2 linked regions of the Homo sapiens genome follow. The protein of the gene in region 1 purifies or fractionates together with the protein of each later gene. This does not show direct contact. Each region holds a gene or a part of one and is shown on either strand. Other genes may lie near its edges. The genes, in order: SIPA1L3 and SPIN2A.

Region 1 (3,817 bases):
AAAGTGCTGTGATCACAGGCGTGAGCCGCTGTGCCCAGCCAGGATTTTTTTTAATTAAAAAAAAAAAAAAGAAAGAAAAGGCTGGGCACAGTGGCTCACGCCTGTAATCCCAGCACTGTACAAGGCCAAGGTAGGCAGATCACCTGAGGTCAGGAGTTCAAGACCAGCCTGGCTAACATGGCAAAACCCCTCCTCTACTAAAAATACAAAAATCAGCAGGGCATAGTGGCGCATGCCTGTAATCCCAGTTACTCAGGAGCCTGAGGCAGGAGATGGGCTTGAACTTGGGAGGCAGTGGTTGCAGTGAGCTGAGATTGTGCCAGCCTGGGTGACAGCGAGACTCCATCTCAAAAACACAAAGTGAAATGATCCTGTTTATTGTGTGTCTTCCCGGGCTAGAATGGCTAGAATGTAAACCCTAGGACAGCAAGGATCTTGTCTGTCTTGTTGACTGCTGAATCCTCAGTGCCTAGGATAGGACCCTGGCTCACAGCAGGGTCTCAACACATCTGTCAACTCAATAAAATAAGAATAGTAGCTAACTGCACAGGGCTAATGACAGCCTAATGTGCTGAAAGTCTTGCAGACATTTCATTCAGTCTCCAGCGACCCCCGAGGTAAAGACTACTATCATACCCATTTTGCCAATGAAGAAAAAAGCTCAGTGCACATCTTACAAGTTAGTGGCTATACTGTGATTTGAACTTGGTCTGCCCGCCACCTAAGCCACCTTCCAACCATGGCACACTTCTCGCAAATATGAGGAGTGATATTTCCCACTGATGCTCCACCACCAGCCCCTCACCCCCACCACCCACTGTGGTCAGGGCACTTTACTGGCTCCTGTCTTCCTGGGCAAATCTCCTCCCTTCTTTCAGCGGCAGCTGGATCCCTCACCTTAGGCCCCCAACATCTCCAAGCGGGATCCCTGCAATATAACTTTTTCTTATTTCTACCTGGTGTTTCAAGTGATTGAGTTGGCTCTTCCTGTGAATTTCTCTGGGTTTGAAAGAACACATGTAGGCTGAGGCGGGAGGATCATTTGAGGCCAGGACTTCGAGACCAGTCTAGGCAACATAGTGTGAGACCCTATCTCTACAAAAATTTAAAAATTAGCTGGGTGTGGTGGTGCACACCTGTAGCCCCAGCTACTAGGGAGTCTGAGGTGGGAGGATCACTTGAGCCCAGGAGTTCAAGGTTACAGTGAGCTATGATGACGCCACTGCACTCCAGCGTGGGCAACAGAGTGACCCTGTCTCTAAAAAAAAGATCACAGCTGGCCCTGCCCTGAAGGCTTGACATAGATAATCTTATGAAACCTCTCAACAACCACCCTATAAGGAAGACACTGGTATCATCCCCATTTTCAGATCAGGACACTAAGGCTCAGAAGGACACATGATTTGCCCAAGGTATCACAACTAATATAGGATAGAGTCACAGTGTGAACCCAGACCATGTGGCCCCAGAGTTTGTGCTTCAGCCACTGGGCCATGCTGCCTATGTGAAAGGATACTTTTTATACTTTTTTTTTTTTGAGACAGAGTGTCACTCTTGTCACTCAGGCTAGAGTGCAGTGGTACAATCTCGGCTCACTGCACCCTCCACCTCCCTGGTTCAAGCAATTCTCCTGCCTCAGCCTCCCAAGTAGCTGGGATTACAGGCTCTCATCATCACACCCTGCTAATTTTTTCTTTTTTTTATAGATGGAGTCTCGCTCTGTCGCCCAGGCTGGAGTGCAGTGGCACAATCTTGGCTCACTGCAAGCTCTGCCTCCCAGGTTCACGCCATTCTCCTGCCTCAGCCTCCTGAGCAGCTGGGACTACAGGCACCGGCCACCACGCCTGGCTAATTTTTTTGTATTTTTTAGTAGAGACGGGGTTTCACTGTGTTAGCCAGGATGGTCTCGATCTCCTGAGCCACCACCAAGGATACTTATTAGATGTGTGTTTGCTGAGGTAAAGAAATCTCAGAGGGGCCAGGCGCGGTGGCTCACGCTTGTAATCCCAGCACTTTGGGAGGCTGAGGTGGGCGGATCACGAGGTCAGGAGATCGAGACCACGGTGAAACCCCATCTCTACTAAAAATACAAAAAATTAGCCGGGCGTGGTGGCGGGCGCCTGTAGTCCCAGCTACTCGGAGAGGCTGAGGCAGAGGAGAACGGCGTGAACCCAGGAGGCGGAGCTTGCAGTGAGCTGAGATTGCGCCACTGCACTCCAGCCTGGGCGATAGAGCAAGACTCCGTCTCAAAAAAAAAAAAAAGACATCTCAGAGGAACAACCTAAAGGACCAGCAGTGGGGGAATGCTGGAATAAAGCGTGGTCTCTCTGCACTGAAGAATGTGGGTACAGCTGTTGAAAAGGATAAGCCAGATCTATATGTAATGACTTGGAAGGACATGCCCAGCCATTAATTGAAAAAACTGGGTTACAAATAGGTGTAGCTTGATCCCTACCCCCTCCTTTTTTGGGGAATGGTATGGGAGGAGGAAGAAAACAGTCGATACACACACACACACACACACGCACATACATACAAACATAATCAATATAAACACAGAAAAAGATAACTGAAGCATCTGTCCAAATCACAAGGGCAGAGAGCACATCCATTTTGTTCATTATGCTATCTCCAAAGCCTAGCAATAGATACTTAATAGATACTCACTGTCTGAATAAATGGTTATCTCTGGCGACATGGGGTTTTGGAGTGGAGGGTGGCACTAGGTATTTTCCCTACACCTCTGTATTGTTTGACACGTTACAACAAGCATGAATTTCTTGCATAACTTTTTTTAAGCTAAATTCAACCCAATCACATACATACACACACGCACAAAAGGTCATGACCAAAATAGTCCTTAAAAAAAGGAAGCAATAGGCCAGGCACGGTGGCTCACGCCTGTAATCTCAACACTTTGGGAGGCCAAGGTGGGTGGATCACCTGAGGTCAAGAGTTCGAGGCCAACATGGCGAAACCCCATCTCTACTAAAAATACAAAAATTAGCCAGGCATGGTGGCATATGCCTGTAATCCCAGATACTCAGGAGGCTGAGGCAGGAGAATCGCTTGAACCTAGGAGGTGGAAGTTGCAGTGAGCTGAGATCGTGCCACTGCACTCCAGCCTGGGCCACAGAGCAAGACTCTGTCTAAAAACAACAAAAAGGAAGCAATATCAGTCTTGAAGAATACACAAATGCACAAACTGGTACAACAGCCTCTCATTCTTTTTTTTTTTTTTTTTCTGAGACAGGGTCTCACTCTGTCACACAGGCTGGAGTGCAATGCTGCAATCACAGCTCACTACAGCCTCAACATCCCGGGTAGCTGGGACTAGAGATGTGTGCCACCACACCTGACTAATTTTTTGTAGAGATGGGGTTTCGCCATGTTGCCCAGGCTGCTCTCAAACTCCTGGGCTCAAGTGATCCACCCACCTCAGCCTCCAAAGTGCTGGGATTACAGGCATGAGCCACTGCACCCTGCCAAATAGCCTCTCATTCTAATAGCTAAAAACAAACACTTTATTTTAAAGGAAATGATTATTGAATTCTTTTATTAAAATGTAAATACATTTAATTTACATTTTACAAGTTACTAAGACTATGTTTGAAATATATCAGTAAAATATATTTTACAGCAAAAAAATGAGGCACCAATCACTGCACATTCTAAATTCCACTTTTGATTTACCACCTAACAACTGCAATGTCTGAAACACAGACTCACATTTAACTCTTAGATCATTCATTCTACACTGACTGCTAAAAAGCCACGTGCTGCTTTTTTTTTTTTTTTTTTAAGCCACTGCTTTACT
Region 2 (4,065 bases), on another chromosome or scaffold:
AAAAGCTTCAGGACATTGGTCTGAGCAACGATTTCTTGAGTAAGACCTCAAAGCACAGGCAAAGGAAAAATGGGCAAGTGAAATCACATCAGCTAAAAAGCTTCTGCACAGCAAAGGAAACAATCATAAAATGAAGAGACAACCTAGGTAACAAGAGAAAATATTTACAAAGTATTCAACTGACGGGATTAATAATAAAAATATGTAAGAAATTCCAACAACTCAATAGTAAAAAATCAAATAATCTGATTTAAAAATGGGCAAAAGAGCTGAGTAGACATTTCTCAAACTAAGACGCACAAATGGACAACAGATATATAAAAAGTATTCTAAATCGCTAATCATCAGGTAATTGTATATCAAAATAGCAATGAGATATCATCTTACCCCAGTTAAAATGGCTATTATCAAAAAGACAGAAAATAAAAACTGCTGGTAAGGAAGTGAAGAAAGAGGTATCCTTGTAAATTGCTCGTGGGGATATAAATTAGCATAGCCATTATGAAAAACAGCGTGGTAGTTCCTCCAAAAACTAAAACTACAAATTCCCTAAGATCCAGCAATCTCACTATTGGGTATATATCCAAAAGAAAGGAAATCAGCATATCAACGAGCTATCTGCACTCACATATTTATTTGCAGCACTGATCACAATAGACAAGATATGGAATCAACTTAACTGTCCATCAATAAATAAATGGATAAAAAATGTGATATATATATATATATAATAAAATATTATTCCACCATAGATTAAGATTAACCTAACACTTATTTAACTTTTCAGATGTTAGCCAACATATTGTTTTTATTGTACACCCATTTGGTTTGTTGTCCTACAACATGTAACTGAAAACATCTTACTTGATATAGCAATCTAATATTGTTGATTATTTTCAGAATTATAGGATACTGTGAAAAACTGTAACTCACAAAAAAACACACAAAAATTAAAAATGACTTCACTTTATGCGAAATAGATAAGGTTTGTTAAGTATTGTAATCACATTCAAAAATAACTCTTTAAGCTTAAAATAAGCCAATACTTCTTCAAAGCAAGGTCTCCAAATCTAAAATATGCCTACATAATGCTTTGGAGAAACACTTAATGTATGTATTCGTGAGTGTGTATGCATATACAGAGAATTATATCTGTGAGTTATGTGATTGGATAGAGGTGTGTATTTGGAATTAAGAATCTATGGATAGGAATTTCTGGAACTGTACACAGAATTCATAGTTTTATACATGTGCATGTGCTTGGAGATATATATATATATACATACATACACATTTGCATATGGTCGTAAAGGATTCATGTCTCCATAAATGTATACACATGGTATTTCTATGTTAATTTGTATGTTTCCAAAGAATGTGAGAAATGTCTGAAAGATGGAAAACAGATGGAGCAAGAGAGCTGAGGGGAGGGGCTAGAGAGCTTGAAGGATCCAGCCAGCAGAGACAGGAAGAGAGAAAAGGCCACCTACAGGTTCCACTGTTGTGAATTGTGGAAAGGGAAGGAGGAGCCCAGGAGGGGCCCCAAGAAAAGAAAGGCAGATCTGCTCTGTGATTAGAATGGAAGACATCACTACTAAGAGGAAACTAACACTGTAGTCTTGTGCAGAAAAAGGGCAGAGACTACAGCCACTGCATCAGGGACTGGTGGCAGCCCAACGTGGCTGAGGGGTGGCCGCCACCAACAGGGAGGTAGACGGCCAGCGAGCGAAGCGCTGGGGACACCGCTGCAGTGCTCTTTGCCTGTCTCGCCGCGCTCCTACACACGCTCCTCATCTATGGATCCTACCCTCCCCGCTCTTGCAAGCAGTCACTCAGCGAGTCGCCTGTTGACCCTCCTTCGCCACAGGCTCACAGCAGAGGCAGCATCGAGGTATCCGATTTCGGCACGTGAGGCCCGCGATCCCCGGCGGTGGACGCCAGGCAGGGCAAGGCCATTAGTGGGCGCCAGAATGGAGAGGGGGATGGGAAGGAATCCAGCAGGAGACATGGGGTGGAGTTGGGCGCCAGGCAAGGGTGGGGTGGGGGAGTGCGGTGGACGACAGGGAAAGGGGGTAGGAATAGGAGCCAGACAAGGATTTGAAGGTGAGCGCCAGGAAGCAAGGGAGGTAGGTAACAGGGAAGTGGTTAGGATAGGCAGTGGGGGTTACAGACAGCACCAGAGGCACTCAGGGCAGGAGGGTAGTGGGTGCTGGTCAAGGCCGCTTTGCAGGGGATTGGGAGTGGATGCTAGTGGCAGTAAAGGGTAAAGGGAGGGCAGTGGGCTCTGAGCTAGGAGGAGGTGGCCCAGCCACTTCTGCAGAGTTCCTAACCCCAGACAGCTCTACTGCACCACCCCAGCCCTTCCCCACAGCCCAAAGGAACTTAAGAGGGAGAGCACTGCGGGCATGCAGCCAGGATTTCCAGCATTGCTTCCAGGCTCCTAGGGGAAACTTAGGCACTAGCGCAGACTACATCCAGACATGGCTATAGGGAAAAGTTTGCCTTGTGGCACACTGGGTGTGTCTCTCTATCCTCTCTCCTCCCCCAGCAGGCATGAAGACCCCCAACGCACAGGAAGCCGAAGGGCAACAAACCAGGGCAGCTGCAGGACGGGCCACTGGGTCTGCAAACATGACAAAGAAAAAAGTCTCCCAAAAGAAGCAGAGAGGCCGACCTTCATCCCAGCCCCGCAGGAACATCGTGGGCTGCAGAATTTCTCATGGATGGAAGGAAGGAGATGAGCCCATCACGCAGTGGAAAGGAACCGTTCTGGATCAGGTGCCTATAAATCCCTCTCTTTATCTGGTGAAATATGATGGAATTGACTGTGTCTATGGACTGGAACTTCACAGAGATGAAAGGGTTTTGTCTCTTAAAATTCTTTCTGACAGGGTGGCATCATCTCACATTAGTGATGCCAACCTTGCAAATACCATAATTGGCAAAGCAGTGGAACACATGTTTGAGGGAGAGCATGGTTCTAAGGATGAATGGAGGGGGATGGTCTTAGCTCAAGCACCTATCATGAAAGCCTGGTTTTATATTACCTATGAGAAAGATCCTGTCTTGTACATGTACCAGCTTCTAGATGATTATAAGGAAGGTGACCTCCGCATCATGCCAGAATCCAGTGAGTCTCCTCCAACAGAGAGGGAGCCAGGAGGAGTTGTAGATGGCCTAATAGGTAAGCATGTGGAATATACCAAAGAAGATGGCTCCAAAAGGATCGGCATGGTCATTCACCAAGTGGAAACCAAACCCTCTGTGTATTTCATCAAGTTTGATGATGATTTCCATATCTATGTCTACGATTTGGTGAAAAAGTCCTAACTGTTAGGGTAAAATTTGGCACATGTGTGGAAACAAATGTATAATTTGTAGACATGCAAAAAATGTTGCCTTTCAGTGTACTGAAAGCTTATGGAATCCCTGATAACTAAACATCTTTGCCAGCATTAACTGTTGTTTTGCTCTAAAAAATACAAATTTGTGAATACATGACATGCTGTCTGTAAGCCCTTTGTCTTGTTGAAAAGTTCGGGTGTGTTTGGTAGATGGGGCATGGAAGGAACGAACAGCTGTCAATTTCGGCTGTGAATAAAGTTCAGCTAGAATCATAATCAGTCATTTAAAAATGGCACTGGATTTAGCTGGTCTGGTCTGGAGGGGGCAGGGGAAGGAACAAGAGATTGGCTGTCTTGGGGAGAGAGGAGGAGGTGACTGCTTAGGAAGAGGTGGAAAAGGGCCAGAAAGGGAGGGGCTCCTTGGGGGAGGGGATGACCTATGAGAAGGAAACATCCAACTCAGAAGGAAGACTAACAGAGGGAGAGTGAGATCTTGGGGCTTAGAGGAAAATAGAATAAACTGAGTAGAGAGGAACACAAAGAAGCTTAGAAGAGGGTCCAGAGTAAGGTGGAGAAGGATCAACCTGACAGGGATCTGGGAGAGGCTAAAGGATACACAAAGGAAGAGGCTATGTGGGTTAGGGTGTTGGAGGGATTAGAAGAGGGCCACTGAGGAAGGAGGAATTCAAAGAAGAAAGACTGACAGAGGGAGTGAGAATAC

The links.
Region 2: the proteins of SIPA1L3 (region 1) and SPIN2A purify together in Homo sapiens (affinity purification with mass spectrometry; one large-scale study listed by BioGRID and IntAct). This does not show direct contact.

The regions. Positions count from the first base shown.
Region 1 is NC_000019.10:37,909,958-37,913,774, reverse strand, and holds part of SIPA1L3 (signal-induced proliferation-associated 1-like protein 3), read right to left. Parts: intron 1-3,817. UniProt on the Homo sapiens protein: Plays a critical role in epithelial cell morphogenesis, polarity, adhesion and cytoskeletal organization in the lens.
Region 2 is NC_000023.11:57,135,086-57,139,150, reverse strand, and holds SPIN2A (spindlin-2A), read left to right. Parts: upstream 1-1,753; 5' UTR 1,754-1,891; exon of another isoform or gene 1,892-1,946; intron 1,947-2,009; exon of another isoform or gene 2,010-2,103; intron 2,104-2,274; exon of another isoform or gene 2,275-2,548; 5' UTR 2,549-2,553; coding exon 2,554-3,330; 3' UTR 3,331-3,501; downstream 3,502-4,065. UniProt on the Homo sapiens protein: May be involved in the regulation of cell cycle progression. Exhibits H3K4me3-binding activity.